Linked DNA regions of Homo sapiens. The protein of the gene in region 2 interacts with the protein of the main gene of each other region in a biochemical or structural test. Each region holds a gene or a part of one and is shown on either strand. Other genes may lie near its edges.

Evidence for each region. The genes of interacting proteins can lie anywhere in the genome.
Region 1: the proteins of GNAZ (region 2) and RGS20 form a complex in vitro, tested with the Homo sapiens proteins (2 studies listed by BioGRID, with this or other methods).

Annotation. Positions count from the first base shown.
Region 1 is NC_000008.11:53,878,792-53,882,606, reverse strand, and holds the start of RGS20 (regulator of G-protein signaling 20), read right to left. Parts: upstream 1,736-3,815; 5' UTR 1,592-1,735; coding exon 1,523-1,591; intron 1-1,522. UniProt on the Homo sapiens protein: Inhibits signal transduction by increasing the GTPase activity of G protein alpha subunits thereby driving them into their inactive GDP-bound form.
Region 2 is NC_000022.11:23,068,440-23,072,039, reverse strand, and holds the start of GNAZ (guanine nucleotide-binding protein G(z) subunit alpha), read right to left. Parts: upstream 1,522-3,600; 5' UTR 1,470-1,521; intron 1-1,469. UniProt on the Homo sapiens protein: Guanine nucleotide-binding proteins (G proteins) are involved as modulators or transducers in various transmembrane signaling systems.

The DNA of each region.
Region 1 (3,815 bases), on a different chromosome or scaffold from region 2:
AGTGGCGCGAGCTTTTGCCAAGTTACGAGACGGACAGGAATCGAGGAGATTCCCCTGTAGCGCTCTCCACCTTCCGGACAGAAATCCTGTAGACCACGTTCACTTCTCCACTCCGTGCATCGCCCGTGGCCCGTGGGCAGCAGCTGCTCCCCTGGGATCCCCCTCGCCTGTCCGCGAGCTCTCGCACGGCCGCGTCCCTGCTGCTGGGGTCGCTCGCTGGCCCTGGCTGCTCGCCAGGATTTTCCTTTGATGCTGTCAAGTCCGGGAAGCTCACGATGCACCTCAGTGCCCGCGCGCCGCCTCTCCCAAAGCCCCTTCCCCACTCACTCCCCCACAAGCGTGGAGGGAGATGGGGTAGGTCGCGGCGCCTATAGACCCCCTCCCGGCGCCCACTCTCTCTCTTCCACTTCTCTAGCAGCGGTAGGGCCGCAGCGCACGCAAACCTTTCCCCAAAACGCCCACCCCACTCTCAGCTAGCCGCTTCTCTCAGGGCTCCTCCGCCCGAGCTGGGTGTGGGGATCGCCGCGCACACAGAGACGGGAAAGCCACCCCGGTCCCGGAGCGCCGCTTCCCTAGAGGCCCCTGGCCCGTCCGCTCCCCCAGCGCTGGAGGACAGCCGCGCACACAGACCCTCCCCTCCAACGCCCACCGCGGTCCCCAGCTGCAGCCTGCACCTCCACTTCCCGCCCCCAGTCTCCCGCCCTCCGCCCCCTGCTTTCCAGTCTCCGCAGTCCGGGCGCCCAGACTTGTTTCGACTTCCCAGGGCAGCTCCGAGGGTGCGGAAGATCAAGTGCCCGGGTTTGTTCCAGGAAAATCCCGGCGGCGCCTGCACGTTAACTGCCCTGGCGCAGGCGAAGGGTGGAGGGCACTTCTCTGTTCATTCGGTTTTCAAGAGCGTGAACAGAGGCTCCGAGTGAACGCCCATACCTAGTCGGTCTTCTAGGGTCCACGCGTGGGGCGTCCACTTCCTCACCCTGCCCCTCGGTGCCCCTGCCCTGGTTGCACTTCTCCTAAAAGGAGGCGCTACGATTCCAGGAGGCTCTGTCTCCTTACCCTTCCCAGCGGCGCTCAAACCACCAGCCCCGGGCGCCCAACCCCTTCCTTGTCCTCTCCCTATCCCGTGAGAAAGCCGACGCTTCCACCCGCCTGGTCTTTCCGAAATACGCTTCGGGTGGTCAATGCGATTTCTAGGGTCTAAAGACTAGACTCCCGCGTTCCCCACCAAGACACCGACGCGAAGCCGCAGAGGTGGAATCGCGGACGCCCTGGCAGGCCCGGGACATATTGATCCTGGTGGCGCGATGCCCCTCTTCGCACGCGGACGCACTCGCAGCCCCACTCCCCCAAACTCGCACTGCGGGAAGGAACCCCCGACTCGCACCGGCTCCCGCCCCGCAGCAACGGCGACACCCTGAGGTCCGGACGAGCGGCGCGCCCCTCCCAGCCTCGGCCACTTTCCAGCACGAAGCCTCAGGGCGAGCCCGAGACGAAGAAAGAGAGTTCGAGGAACTGGGATACTCACGAGCCCACCGTCCACCCTGCCGGCCGGGGAGGAAGCCCCGGCCGGCTCGCCTCCGTCCGCCGTGCGCATGCGTCCCGCGGGTGCCTTCTCAATATTGCAGCGCGGAGGGCTGCCCTCTCTACGTCGGCGATTGCTCACCGCGCCTTTCGCCTTTCTCCGGCTCTCGGTCTTTGCTCTAGCCCTCTTCTCCCGGCCTCTTCCTCCCCTTGCTCTGCCTCCTCCCCGCCCCCTCACTCCTTTTACCCGGCCGGGCAATCCCACGTCTCGCCTCCCTCCAGCGGCGGCGCACTCCACCGCCGCGGGTGCTAGGGGTACCCCCGAGGCCCCACGCGGGGCGCGACCTCCACCCCGGCCGCAGCCCCACTGCTCCAGCCCCGCATTAGCAAGTCCCAAGAGTGTGGATGCGAAGCCAGGCGCGCGTAGAGGGCGTCCGCGAAGCCCTCTGTGTCATCGCCTCCCCTCGGCGCGCGGGGCCGAGCGAGACTAGAGTGTGCTGGACTGCGTGCTCGGACCTCGTGAATGAAGGGAGCGGGAGGAAGGAGCGGGGGTGGGCGGCAGGCATGGAGGGGGCGCTTGGTCCCCAGAGCTTCGCGTCTGTGGACTGCGCGTCTCTGGAGGGCAGCCCCCTACCTTCTCCCCGGCCCGGGGCGCCTCTCTGAGCTCTGTCCCCGCCCCACCCCGGCGCAGCCTAGGCCTCCGGTCTTCCCGCCCTGGAAAGCGGCCCTCGCCCCCTCCCAGCTAGCCAGAGCGCGGAGGCCCCACCCAGCAACCGAGCGGGGGATAAGGGGGGGAACTAACCCCTGACTCCAGATCCCGCTGAGACCCTCGGCAGTCGCCCTCCGCGTCCCCTTCTCCAGGGACTCCGGAGTCCGGGGAAAGGAGTAGACCAGGGGGCAGCGGGAGGGGGAACCCAGCCGCCCAGCTCTCCGGACTCGCAGCACCGCGTGTCCCCGTAGCCCGCAGCGTCCCTTCGGGAGTGGGACCCGGTGGGGCCGCGGGGTTAGTTCCCTGGAGCCCGGAGGGCTAAGCTGAAGCTGGAAACTGACCTGACACAAAAATAACATCACGTCATTTCCTCCCTTGCCTGCCGAGAGGGCAGGGGAGTGGGAGAGCGAGCGCTGGGAGCAGGCGGAGGCGCGTTTGGGGGAGGCTCGGAGTAGGCGGAGGAGAGCGACACGCTGAGAGTTTGAAAGGCAGCCTCGGGGAAGAGCGAGGGCTCCCTCCCGTTTTCTTGGACCATGGAAAGGAAATGGCCCAGGAAAAAGTAGCTTGGAGTGTCTTCCCGCGGGGAGGGGCGGTGTCCCGGGAGCCGCCAATGTCCCGTCCTAGGACTTGCCCAGCCACGTCCCGGCCTTCCCGACCTTGCCACCCTCCCTACTGCTAGCCCCAGCGGAGCGGGTCAGTTGGGGTTAGGAAGAATCGGGAGAGGCTGGTGTCCTGGGGAGGCTGGGTGTGGGGCGTAGTGGAGACCACGGTACTCACCGGCATAGGCGAGCTCTGCCCAGCGGTGGCGTCTTCTTCCCTGGGCTTGGCTACCGGATGGGGGGGCCTCAGCGGACGACCCCCCGAGGGTCGGCCGGGCAGTGCCAGCGCCGCCCCGAGCAGGAGCGAGAGGCGGCCCGGCAGCTCCTCGTGCCCCCTCGAGAGCCGGGCGGCCGGCAGGGCGGGAAGCAGGGGGGAGAAGTCCAGGCGCCTCCGGGGAGCCTCGGGAGGGGGTCGCCGGAGAAGGTGAGAGAAGAACCTTGCGAGGCTGGAAAGCGGGCTAGAAAGGAGGCCGAACAGCTTCGGGGCGGCGGGCGAGTCTGGGAGCTGTGCAGGCGGGAAGGACTGGGGTGGGGAGAGAGAAACAAAACCAGCATACGGTTACTGTGGTGTCCGGCCGCTTAGATGGGGCTCTTTACTACAGAATTTTGAAGCGTTACTTTGGGGGTGCAAGAGAAGGTCGGTGAAAGCAGAAGGAAAGGCCTATAGTTAGATTCTTTCCCCTCCCACTCCTGTATTTCCTAACTCCGTGCTACTTGAAGTGTGGTCCGTAGGCCAGCAGCTTCGCCAACACCTAGGAGCTTGTTAGAAATAAAGACTCTTGAGCCCCACCCAGCCAATGCATCGGAATCTGCATGGTAACATTCCCAGGGGACTACCATGCGCGCTGAATGTGACATGCGGTATGCAGAAGGGTCTGTGTTCACATCGCCTGGTTCTTCAGAATTTGGATGAAAATCTTAGTTCACTTTTGTAACTGTTGCTCTTCCCCTCCCTTCTCTGGTCTTCCCTTGTTCCCCCTGCCCTTTCC
Region 2 (3,600 bases):
GAACTGCTTCGCTTTTACAGATGAGGAAGCCGTGGTCTCCACCATAGCCACAGTTAACCAGCAGTGGGGTCATTCCACTTCCCAGCTCCCTCAGCCCCGTGCAGCCCCCACCGGCCTTTCCCGCCATACCTCCTCCTACTCCCCAGGCATGCTAAGTGCTCCCATCAGACCTAACTGCCCAAGTGCCTCGGTCTATTCTCTCCTCTCTGCCCACAATGCCCAGCTTAGCTGTGCCCATGTCCTTCAAGCTCCAGTTCAAATGTCATGTTGCCCACGAGCTCACCTGACCCCCCAGCCCAGGACACCACTCTGAGGTCCCTCCCGAGGCCCCTGCACCTGCACTCAAGCGGGGTTGGTCGAGTAGAGACGTTTTCCCCTATGCGGTGGTCAATCAGTCCTGGGAGGGCAGGCCCAGTCCACTCCCACCCGGTGCACCCCAGCGTCAAGCTCTGGGGGAGTGACCACTCAATAAATATTTGCTTAATTGAATTTGGCCAAGGAGCCTTCTCCAGAGAGCTCAATCCCCAGGGCAGGGAAATCACTTGGGCAGAAAGGAGCCGGTCAGGGGCTCAGCTGTCTCCCCAAGCAAGACAGACCTCTCTACCAGGCGGGTCCCTCCACCCCAACACGGACTACGCGGAACGCTGGTCTCGCTTGGCATCATCCTCTTGTCTCAGTTAACAGGAGCCCCCATTCTCGGCCTAGGCCGAATCCTGCCATCATCACCCAGGAAGGCTCAGCACCGCCCTAAAGGCAGAGCCCCCTCGGATCGCCCGCAGGATACGGAGCGCCAGCCCTGAGGCCCTCACTCCCCTCCCCCAAACACCCCCACCGCCTTTTAAGGGAAAAAATATTGAGCCGGGAACGTATTACAATCGCAGCAGGTCGATACTCATCTCTTCCTCTAAATGCCTGTGAGGAACCTGCTCGCTGCAAGAGCAGTGACCGAGAACTGCTAGCTGTCCGTCTGCGGGCCCAGGTCCTCGGGCCCAGGCCTCTGGGGCCCTCTCCTCGGTTTCAGGCAAGGCCCTGCATCGGCTCCGGCCGCCCCTCCCTGATCCTCCCCCTAGGGAGACCCGCCTCAGCGCCGCTCCCGCAGCTCGCCTGGCCCGCCCGGGCTCCGCATCAGCCGCTGCTTGGGGGCGCCCGGCGGCCCCGCGCGGCATCCCCGGCGCCCTCTGTCCACCCTCCCGGGTCCTCAACCGCCCCCTCCCGCGGGGTCATCGGCTTGGCGGCGCATCCCTCCCCCAGCACCTGCCCGACCAGAGGCCGCCCCCTGCCCACCTCGCAGGCGTCCCCGCCCTTGGTGTCCCCCACCCCTGAGGGGCATCCCTGACGCTGCGTCCTGGCGGATCCGGGGCACAAAGGCCTGGGAAGAGTCCCAAGTGGGGGCAAGGTGGATGCCCCGGCCGTGCCCCCGACCCCTGAGGCTCAGCGGCGCGCGGCCGGCCGCGGGTCGGCTCACTCACCTCCGGGCCGCAGCACAGAGCATCTGCCGAGCTGCTCCGGGCAGGGCGGGGCGGGGCGGGGCGGCGAGCACGGGGCCGCGGCGCCCTCGTTCCGTACGACGCGGGCAGCGGCGCCCACGCGGGGACGTGACCGGACCGCGGGCGGCGCACACGCTCCGGCCGGCCTGGTTCCCTCCGCCCGCCCTCCCGCGCCGCCCGCCGCCCGCCGCCCGCCGCCAGTCCGCGGGTCCGCCCGCCCCGCGCCGCGCCGCCGCCGGCAGGGGGCGGAGCCGCGAGCGCAGCCCGTTGCCAGGCCAACCGCGGGCGGGGGGGTGCCGCGCGCCCGCCGGGCACCACGCGCCGGGCACCTCCGCCCCGCCACGAGCGCCGGCCCTCTGTCCATTGGGCACAGGCAGCTGACGGACGGGCCAGTAGCCCAATGGGGACGGACAGGGGCGGGGTCGCAGCTCCGCGCGCGCCGCAGTCCCGCAAGAGCTCCCCGCGCCGGCGTTCCACCGACTCCGCTGCGCTGAGGCCTGGTAGCCGAGCCCCAGGGGCCACCTCTGGCAGCCCGGGAAACCAAGCCTGAGCCCAGCCATGGTCCTGGCCCTCTTTACTGCAGCCAGTCCCGGCTCGCCTTCTCTCCACTCGGGTTCAAACCCAGTTCGGCCTCTTGTGAGCTCTACGTCCTTGGGCAACCGACTGACCTCTCTCAGCCTTTCTGTTTGCAAAGTGGGGCTAGTGGCACCTGCTTTCCTGGATTGTCTCACCAATCCTTCAGAACGTGTGAAAGGCCTATGCAAACCCTAACGATTTACACCGGTGAGGTTTGTGCAGCGATGGGAGGGAGCATTAGTCATCTCTGCCGCCGCCCCCCGCCGCCACCGCCCAGTGTCTAGGGGCTCTTTGGCGTCCCTGGCAATCCTGGCACACGGAAGGGTGGCCTTGGGAGGGAAGGAAGGGAGAAGGACCGAGGAGCTGGCCCCCAGCCCAGACAAGCGTGAGAGAGCCAGTTCAGTTAAGGCCACTGATTGGCGCTTTTGGGAAGCTGGTGGAAAGCATCAGACCCTCAGCAAAACGCAGCTGAACCCAGGCTGCAAAATTCTGTTTTCAATTTCAAAGCCTATCTGTGGACCTCAGGGCCAGGAGTCCCTCAGTTCCATGCTTAAAAGACTCTCAAGCCAGAGGGCCAAGACATGAATGCTCCTGTCTCTCTTCTCCATCTTTGTAAATCTGAAGCTTTGTGTATCCTAGAGCATCCCTGACAAAGTGCAAATGCCTTCCCAGCTAACGCGTTCCTTATCACCTCACACCTTTGTAAGGTGTGGATCATGCCATTCTTTGAGCAGCAGCCCTGGACCTGACCATGGCAGAGGTCCATGGAGCGGTCTCTCCATCATAGCTCTGTGGTGGAGGGGCAGGGGCATGTGCCTGGCTTTGCCAGCTGGACACTGTGGCATCTCAGCATCATCCCATAACCTCCCTAGGAATGTTTCCTCTTCTGTGAGATGGAGACCATTGCGTTACGTACCTGCAGGGTCATGGGCCACCTGTGAGGGTGCTGCCTCAACTGTCAGGAACAGGACGTATATTTGTTATGGGCATCATGGAGGCGAACTTAGTGCTCACTGGAGGTGTCCAGTGAGGACCAAGGGAATTCAGCCAATGGCTGAGGGGCTAGCTACCCTTTGTGCTTGCCTTCCACACCACCAGGCTGTGTCAGGCTGGACCTCTTGCCAGGAGGACCACACAGAGACCGGCAGCTGTGCTACCTGGCTGAGCCTCTGTTTCCTCTTCTGTCAAAAGGGAATGTAACAGACTGTGGTCAGAGGGTGGCTCTGAGGGTTAATGTTTATAGGAAATGCATATTAGCATGTCTTGGGATAGCCAGAGGCTGTTTCCACTGCAGAGTCTGGGGGTCAGAGTTGAATTGTTTGCAGAGGTAAGCCCACATGCAACAGTGAGATGGCCCTTTCCAGTGGTCCAGAGCAGAGGCTAGCCTGCGGAGGGGTCCACTGGGGCTGGCTGACACCTCCCTGACTTGACCTCAAAGTAAGAGAGGGACATCTCACCTGGCATCAAACCAATATTGTATTCATGCAGCAGTCACTTACAGATAGCCTCCTCCACCAGGGTATAGTTGTAGGCACAG